Regions from separate parts of the Homo sapiens genome. Here region 1 is linked to region 2. The links come from fine-mapping of genetic effects on gene expression. Tissue or cell type: adrenal gland. Region 2 holds a variant in brackets; the other region holds the start of a gene. All regions are shown on one strand. Distances are between the middles of the regions.

Region 1 (4,378 bases), 71 kb after region 2:
GTGTAAGAGGGGGTGGCCAGAACTGATGCTGGAGAGTTAAGGTGAGGTGGGGGCATATCACATAGGCCTTGAATGCCACACCAAGCAGTTTGGCTTTTGCCATTGAAAGGTTTTAAGCAGGCAAGTGTCATGATCCATTCTGCAGATCTGCAGTTTAGAAAGGGCACTCTTGCTGGAATGTGGACAGCAGACAGAAGAGGAGAGTCTAGAGGCACAGAGACTCTCAACTGGAGGCACAGTGATGAGGGGAGGTGGGTAAAGTTCATGGAGATCCACCAGCTGAAGCCCCTCAAGGCCACCTCTCCCTAAGGGGAGGTCAAGGGAAATGATGAATGTGAAAGTGCTCAGAAACTGCTGCCAGCTACCAGCCAGTGTGAAGGGTTGTTGATTACTTTTATGTTAAATGTGAGGCCTGGAGCCTCCAGCCCAGCTGGCTAGAACCTGCACACACAGTGCAGTGGGAGTTAGCTTCCCTGAGTTCCCGGGCAGTTGGGTATTTTCATCTCCAGTTCTCAGATGCTGAACTTGAGACTCGCTAAACAATTCCACATGGAGGAGAGGATGGAAATCGTTAGTCTAGGGCAAGGGGAGGGGGGCGCCATTCCTTCAAAAGAATGTCCCTATGGGAGGGGAGGAAGCAGGAGGAATATAAGCTAGACAAGCCAGGGAGTCCAGAGGTCATTCCCGGGCACCCTCCCCTCCCAAGCCTGCTGGGCTTTCCAGTCTCTACCCCAGTCCCTGACGGAAGACATTTAGCAACCACACAAAGGAGCTTCCTGTGAGCCAGACTAATGCTTTACCTAAATTACCTTGTTTATTCCTCACAATAGCCTCTTCTACAGTTGCAGACACTGAGTCTCAGAGAGGTTAGGTAACTTGCCTAAAGTTACCCAGAGCTGGTAAGTGGCAGGGCTGGAACCTGAATCCTGACCAAGCTTGGCCCTCACCCGATGCTGATTGCAGGTCTCTCTCCCATCTAGGCCAGGAGCCTTTAGAGAGGGGAGGGAATGGGAGGGTGGGAAATGGGAGGGGCCCGACTCCTCTCTATGGGTCCCAGGGGTTGTGGAGTTGAATCCCTGCAGCCCTTTTAAGCCCAACAGTGAGGAAGACACTGGATACCAAAGGGCCCATGGTGCCATCCCAAAGACTGATAAGGAGTGTGAGCTGGATGATCACAGAAGGACTCCTAGTTCTGAAAGCTGGGATTCTAATCAGGAGAGGACAATGAATGGAGAGGAGAGACGGGAGTTCTCCCTGCTTCCACACATATGAGACCAGGCTCCTAGCCTTTTCTCTGCACATTCCTAACTGGCAGGGTCCACAGGTGTCAACCCAAGTGCATCCCCAAGACCACACAATGGCTCTGAGTGCAGAAAGGACCTGCAAGACCAGTTTGTTTTCTGGGCAGCAGATGATTTTGCTGGCCTGAGGCCTGGGGCAGTGGTCTCCACTCCTACCTCACCACCTCTCTAGTGTCTTCCTTCTTCCCCAAGTAGACCGGCATGCATGCACACACAGGCCCAAGCAACTCCTTTTTTTTTTTTTTTTTTTAATGAATAAGAAAAAGTAATAAGGAAAGAAGCAGCAAGCAGACTGGGTGTGTTAACAAGTCTGGGCCACTGCAGGAGGTACATTGCCCAATTTCTGCACCCCGAGGCCCTCCAAAGTCTAGGAGAAGCTCCTGGGAGGTCCAGGGCCCAAGACCAAAGCCTCTATCAACTCTCCCACCTGTGAACTGCCCCTCTCCCAAGGTAGGCATTGTCGGGGTGTGTAGACTGGGAGCCACCCACACACCTGACTCTCCCCTCCTAGGAAATGCGTCCACCAGGTCATTTCTCCTGCAAACCCTCATTTTAAAGTGTCTTGGATGCTTTCCTGCCCTTTTTTTTTTTTTTTAACATAAAGAGGGGTGAGAGCCCAAGAGCTACAGCAGGGGGAATAGACTGAAACTGCTGCCTACTCACACGCCAGTTTCCCTTCTTAGAACTCTAACCAGAAGCCAATGGTTTCCTCCTAAAAGAAAAACTCAATCTGTTGACTTTCTCTCTCCTCTCCTGCCAGCTTTTCTGCCCGAGCCGGGCTCTCTCTTCTCTGTGGGTTCGTCTTTCAGCCAGTCTTTCTCTGCTTCAGATTCTTGGTTTCTTGCTCCCGGTAGTCCCTGAACCTCTTTCACTCTTTAAAAAAAAATGGGGAGGGGCGGTGAACAAGCAAAGAGGAAGCCCTCACCCACCCACCAAATCTCTTTCTTACTAGCAACTAATTCCCTCTCTCTTTCCACACACACAGTCATACACACACATACACATACACAGGCACGTACTCCGGCGACCTCCAGATGTTCCCGACAGTGCGGCCATCTGCTTAGATTGCTGGGGCGCGCAGGGGGAGGGGGCAGGGATCCGGGATGCAGGAAGCTGTGAGCGAGGCCAACTAGAGGGGGCGGGAGCAGCGCACTTTTGAGACGCTCCCTAGAGTGGAACCCGGGCTCGGCTCAGGCTCCGCGGGCGGGGCGCGCGCCGAGAGAGGCTGGCACTTTGGCGACACTCCCTGAGCCGCCCCGCGGCCGGCCCGAGCCGCCACCCGGCGCCCGGCAGGGGGGAGCCTGGCTGCGGGCGGGGACCGGGGGGCGGGCCGCGCCGCGCGGAGAAAAGCGCTGGCCGGAGGGCCCGCGGCCGGGCCGCCGGGGTGAGCGTGCCGAGGCGGCTGTGGCGCAGGCTTCCAGGTGAGTGCAGTTCCCCGGGCGGGGCGAGAGTCCGCGCTGCGGTTGAAGATCCCAAGTCCCCGATCCTAGCCTCGCGGCCCCTTCGGAGGGCGGGCTGGGGACGCCGGGCGCAGGGGCGGGGCTGGGTCCCGCCGAGGCCCCTCAACTTTCGTCGGACGCCTAGGGCTGGGCGGGAGTGGGGAACGCCGACCCAGGGGAGAGGTCTTGCGGGAGACAAAGGCTACGCCCAGGGGCCGTGTGGGTCTTTGTGCGGACACGTGCATCTCACGTTTGTGGGTCTTTGTGGATTTGCGGTCGGGGACGCGCCGCTGTCGGTGCCTTTGTGTGTCCGTGGCTTTGCGCGGCTGCTTTGCGCCCGTGTCCACGTTTGCGGGCCTGCGCTTGGCTGTGGGCGTCGGTGGGCGCATCGCGTGTCTCCGCGTACGTGGTCGGTGCCTGCCGACGTGTCTGGGCTGGGTGTCCGCAGAGGGTGTGCGCACCGAGAGCCCAACGCCGCCCCACCCCCCCGCTCCCCCGCCGTCCCCTCGGGCCCACGACTTGGCTCCAAACTTTTCTCCCGGTTCCTCGGGCAACAGCCCCAGTCCTCCCCACCGCTACCCGGCCGGGGGCGCAGACAGCCCTCCCCCTCCCCCTCCTGAGGTCCCAGGACAGCAAGGGGCTGCGACGGGATTGGTGGTCGGGGGATCGGCAGCGCCTGGGGACTGGCTGGGCAGGGGCTGGGCGGAGCGTGCGGACTCCCCCTCAGACCCCGGCTGGGAGGAAGAGGCGAGCGGTGGGTCCCAGGCTCCGGCCCTGGGCTGGGGAGAGGAAGGGACAGGGCGGCTGGCGTTGCCCTCCCCGCGCTTCTTGGAAAGAGTGTGATCCAGAGTTGCGTCTGTTTGGTAGGGAGACAGGCTCCGCTTTGAGACCCACTCTCCGTTTGCAGCCCGCCCCCGGGGTAGGGGGCCAACCCTCGGACCCGGTAGGGGAGAGGGGGACTGCCAGTCCAGATCTGGGCATGCCCGAGGCGCCGGCTCACAGGACCCGGAGCTGGGCTGGGGGCCGTGGGAGCCTCACATACACAGGTTTCAACTGGGACGGCCACTGGCCCCTGTGCGGCGCTGGCAAGTTGCTCAGCTTCGCGGAGTCGCGGTCACTCTGGCACGGACAGGGCGAGAACTCCCTCGCGGCTCGGGGCGTGCGGTGGGAATAACCCGCGCCTCTGGAGCCGGGCGGAGAGCAGCGCCAGCCCACACTTGGCCTGGCGAGGAGGTGACTCAAGACCTTCGATTCTTCTTTCATCTTTGTGCGCCCTGCCCTTCGGATAAGTCTAGACTTGCAGTGCCTGGGGCTGACCGGAGGTGGGGGGGGGGGGGTGCTCAGAGCTGCAGGAGCCTGCTGGGCTTTTGAGCCTAAGTCGCAAAGATAACCGTAAACACCCTCCTCCCCACTGCTCACTCCAGTCTTTAACCTAGAACTTTGTCGGATGCTGCAGACATGATGGAAGGGCACAGGCCGCTAACCTGGGAAAGAAACAACTGTGGGCATTTTCCTTTCCCTCTCCGGCCTCAGTTTCCCTTCTGGAAGGGGAGGTATTGATAGCCTCTTCTGTTCTGGCTGACTGCTTCAGATCCCAGAACCCAGAAACACTTTGATGTTTAACCTACACCTCCATTC
Region 2 (4,378 bases):
CACAGGATCCTAAAGAGATGTTAGAGTCAGGAGAGAGCCTGGGACCCCCCTTAGCACGCTCCTCACATCACCCTGCAGATATTTATTGAGGACCCACTGCATGCCAGGCCCTCTGTCTACAGCATTTCACTGAATCCTCACAGCTGCGCTGGAAGGCAGACATCATGGTTCCCATTTTACAGATGAGAACACTGAGGCTTGGAGCCTAAAAGGGATTTACTCAAAGTCACGAGGCATGTTGGTGTGGAGCTGGGCTTAGGATGGTGTTCCCTGGAGCCTGTGGCGTGAGCCCTGTACTCCCTGAGGCCTAGGAAAGCACACAGCAGGAAGCAGTGGGCCCTAGGCTGACAGCCTCCTCAAGGGTGGCCAGAGCATTCCAGACCTGGGTCCCTGCACCCAAAGCTGGATGGAGCCAGGCCTGGAGCGCCTTGCACTGGTGGCATGGCTTGCAGATCCCATCTGGCCAGTCCTTCCCTCCTCAGAGGCAGATGATGGGGAGGCAGCCGAGGAGTGTTGAACAAATGGTCTTATAAGGCCCCCCTTCTTCCCACTCCTCCACCTCATAAATTTGGGCCTGGAATGCTCATTATTCACAGGGCTGTGGTGGAGAAAGGCAGTGGGGCTGGGTCTCCTGTGAATTAAAGATTATCCACTGGGGTGGGAGCTGATGGTGAGCTCGGCACCGTCACTGCTCTGCACTGTGGGCCGAGGTGCCAGGTGTCTGTGGAGGGCCAGGTCCCTGGGACTGGGAAGAGGCAGCAGGAGGATGACAGAAAGAGAAGTCTGGGGTCCAGGGAGCCAGACAGAGAGCACAGAGGGGAGGAAACATTTTTGGAGTTGGGCCTTGGCACTGGGGCTGGAAGAGAGAAAGTGTGTACAGGCCAGGTGACGATGGGGAAGCTGCAAGTGATTATCCTGGGGAGCCAGAAGTGTGAGGACAGAGATGCTCTGAAGGAGCCTGCCTGGGCAGGTAACGAAGCCCCGTGGTATTGAGCAGCCTGGCCACGTTGGCCAAGGGGCTGGGGATCTGGCACATTGGTTACTGGATTCCCATTTATAGATGACAACACTGAGGCTCAGAGAGGGTAAGCGGTTTGTGTAAGGTCACAGAGTAAGACAGTGACACAGCTGGAGTAGGGCTGAGCTCTGTGTAGCCTGTGCTGGGCATGGAGGGCAGGTGCAGGCGGGGCATGAGCACCTACAGGCATGGCAGTGACACTGGGGAGGAAGGCAGGGGCGGGGATTTTCACCCAGAGCACAACGTCCTTAGCCCCTGGAGTGGGTCAGCTGCTATTCTGGCAGAGTTGCTGAAGGCTGTAGGGAAAAGAAAGAGAAATCAGACTGTTACTGTGTCTATGTAGAAAGGGAAGACATAAGAGACTCCATTTGGAAAAAGACCTGTACTTTAAATAATTTCTTTGCTGAGATGTTGTTAATTTGTAGCTTTGCCCCAGCCACTTTGACCCAACCACTTTGACCCAACCTGGAGCTCACAAAAACATGTGTTGTATGAAATCAAGGTTTAAGTGATCTAGGCCTGTGCAGGACGTGCCTTGTTAACAAAATGTTTACAAGCAGTATACTTGGTAAAAGTCATCGCCATTCTCTAGTCTCAATAAACCAGGGGCACAATGCACTGCGGAAAGCTGCAGGGACCTCTGCCCTGGAAAGCTGGGTACTGTCCAAGGTTTCTCCCCATGTGATAGTCTGAAATATGGCCTCATGGGATGAGAAAGACCTGACCGTCCCCCAGCCCGACATCCGTAAAGGGTCTGTGCTGAGGTGGATTAGTAAGAGGAAAGCCTCTTGCAGTTGAGATAGAGGAAGGCCACTGTCTCCTGCCTGCCTCTGGGAACTGAATGTCTTGGTATAAAACCCGATTGTACCTTTGTTCAATTCTGAGATGAGAGAAAAACCGCCCTATGGTGGGAGGTGAGACATGTTTGCAGTAATGCTGCCTTGTTATTCTTTACTCCACTGAGATGTTTGGGTGGAGAGAAACATAAATCTGGCTTACGTGCATGTCCAGTCATAGTACCTTCCCTTGAACTTCATTATGACATAGATTCCATTGCTCACATGTTTGTTGCTGACCTTCTCCTTATTATCACCCTGCCCTCCTACTACATTCCTTTTTGCTG[AAATAATGAACAT/A]AATAATCAATAAAAACTGAGGGAACTCAGAGACCGGTGCCGGTGCAGGTCCTTGGTATGCTGATCGCCGGTCCCCTGGGCCCACTATTGTTTCTCTATACTTTGTCTCTGTGTTTTATCTCTTTCTCAGTCTCTCGTCCCACCCAACTAGAAATACCCACAGGTGTGGAGGGGCAGGCCACCCCTTAAAAGGCTGCCCGGTTTAAGTCAAGTTCTCATGGTCAGACTTTAGGTGTGTGTGTCTATGTGGTCTTCAGGCCCAGATTTCCTGATTGCCATAGAATTTCCCACTAGGCAGAGACTCTAGCCAGGGACAGCCAAGAAAGGGGAGGAGGATACCTACCTTCCACTGGAAGTCCCGAGGAGCAGTAGAGTGGGCCCGAGTCAGCACCTCCTGCAGGATGATGCCAGTGCTGAAGATGTCCCCTGTGAGGGTGCGCCGCCCAGGGCGCCCAGGCCCCGGCAGCAGCTCAGGAGCTGTCCATAGCAGCTCTGCAATCATAGGGCAGGGCCATGCCACCATTACCTGCTGACCACCCAAGCCAGGCTGGGTGCATGTATTCTCCCCAATTCACAGGTAAAGAGCCTACAGCTTGTTCAGAGAGGAGAAGCGATCAACTCAAGGTCACCAATACCAGAGGACTGGAGATCTCCCTCTCCCTGCACCTTACAAGCACCTGGTTAAACAGAGGCCCCCAAACCTACTGGCAGCCCCCTGCCTATCCCTGAGCTGACCTTCTGGGGCTGGCCAGGGTTGGGGATCCTGCTAAGTGTCCAGGGGCTCTGCATAACCATGGTCAGTGACCTTGAGCACAAAGCATCTGTCCACCACACAGTTTTGGAACTTGAGGCAGCCAGGAGGGAAATGGTGGTGGTGCAGATACCTCATGCCCTGAGATGGACATAATGGGGGTCCATTGGATCTGTAACGAATGAGAGGAAACCTGGTTCTCTCGGAATTCCCACAAGCCCCAGAAAGCCTTCCTGCCTCCCTGTACCCGTGGCCATGCAGTTTGGATATCCCTGGATTAGACAAAGCTGAAAGAGCCCAGCTGTGGGAAATCTGAGCATCTCCTGTCTCCCTGCCATCCCCACTTCCCTGCAGTGCCAGGCCCAGGGAGGGATCTCATGCAGATCAAATCCAGCAGCAGGGAGGCCTTGAAGGTCCAGTCTAGGTGCAGGACCTCTTTCCGAAGCAGGTTCCCCAGAGATCACGAAAATGCCCAGGCAGGTGGCGACGTTCTCACACCGCAGCTCCCGCATCTGTCAGGGAAATTGGCACCTTAGCAGCCCTCAGGGGCCGTTCGAGGGCTGGACCAGGTGCAATCCACATCTAGGCCACCTGCTCTTAGCACCAAGCACAAGGCTAAGCATGGAGAGGCATCAGAAATGTTGAATGAATGGATGGAAAAACAGACAGATGGATGAATGGGTGGGTGGTGAGGGATGGATGGAGGATGGATGGATGAATGTATGCATGGATAGATGGTGGTGGGTGGTAGATGGATAAATAGATGGATGGGTGGGTGGGGAGCTGGTGGGTAGGCAGGTAGATGGGTGGGTGAGTGGTTGATGGGTGGGAGGGTGGATGGATGATGGGTGAATGGGTGGGTGAGTGGGTACTTGGTGGGCTGGTGGGTAGATGGGTGGGTGGATGGATGGATGAGTGAATGGGTGGGTGGCTGGGTGGATGGATGGGTTGGTGGGCGATTGGTCAGTGGGTGGATGGGTGGTTGGTGGGTGGGTGAGTTGTTGGGTAGGTGGATGGGTGGTTGGTGGATGGGTGTTTGCATGGTTGGTGAGTGGGTGGGCAGATGGATGGGTGGATGGGTGGGTGGATGAACGGGTGGATGGGTGGGTGGATGAATGGGTGGATGGATGGATGGGTGAGTAGATGGGTGGTTGGTGGGTGGGTGGTGAATGGGTGAATGAGTCAATAGGTGGATAAATGGCAGATCACTTGAAGCCAGGAGTTCTAGATCAGCCTGGCCAACATGGTGAAACCCTGTCTCTACTAAAAATACAAAAATTAGCTGGGTGTGGTGGTGCACACCCGTAATCCCAGCTACTTGGGAGGCTGAGGTGGGAGGACCGCTTGAGCCCGGGAGCCGGAGGTTGTAGTGAGCTGAGATTCAGCCACTGCACTCCAGCCTGGGTGAAAGAGCGAGACCCTGTCTCAAAAAAAAAAAAAAAAAAAAATCTACTCACATAGTTGCAAGATGCCC

Which allele goes with the higher level. Positions count from the first base shown, and alleles are read on the strand shown. Sizes are in standard deviations (SD) of each study's normalised expression.
In carriers of allele A in region 2, the expression in adrenal gland of the gene that starts at base 2,380 in region 1 tends to be lower than with AAATAATGAACAT alone (moderate effect, 0.46 SD a copy in GTEx).

What was found. PIP is the estimated chance that this variant, and not a neighbour inherited with it, causes the effect.
Region 1: it holds the start of TSKU-AS1, and the variant in region 2 is the best candidate, but not a certain one, in a credible set for the expression of TSKU-AS1 in adrenal gland (GTEx, PIP 0.69).

What each region holds. Positions count from the first base shown.
Region 1 is chr11:76,780,683-76,785,060 of GRCh38, forward strand. It overlaps TSKU-AS1 (TSKU antisense RNA 1), which reads right to left and starts at 2,380. Exons shown (of 2, transcript NR_120562.1): 1 at 2,321-2,380; 2 at 1,899-2,174. It overlaps TSKU (tsukushi, small leucine rich proteoglycan), which reads left to right and starts at 2,674. Exons shown (of 2, transcript NM_015516.4): 1 at 2,674-2,722. RefSeq lists enhancers at 1,911-2,100, 2,335-2,979 and a silencer at 2,531-2,620.
Region 2 is chr11:76,709,771-76,714,148 of GRCh38, forward strand. It overlaps the pseudogene GUCY2EP. Among named protein-coding and RNA genes, the nearest start is that of LRRC32, 41 kb to the left of the region's middle. RefSeq lists an enhancer at 343-844. The variant AAATAATGAACAT/A (reference allele first, on the strand shown) is at 2,142.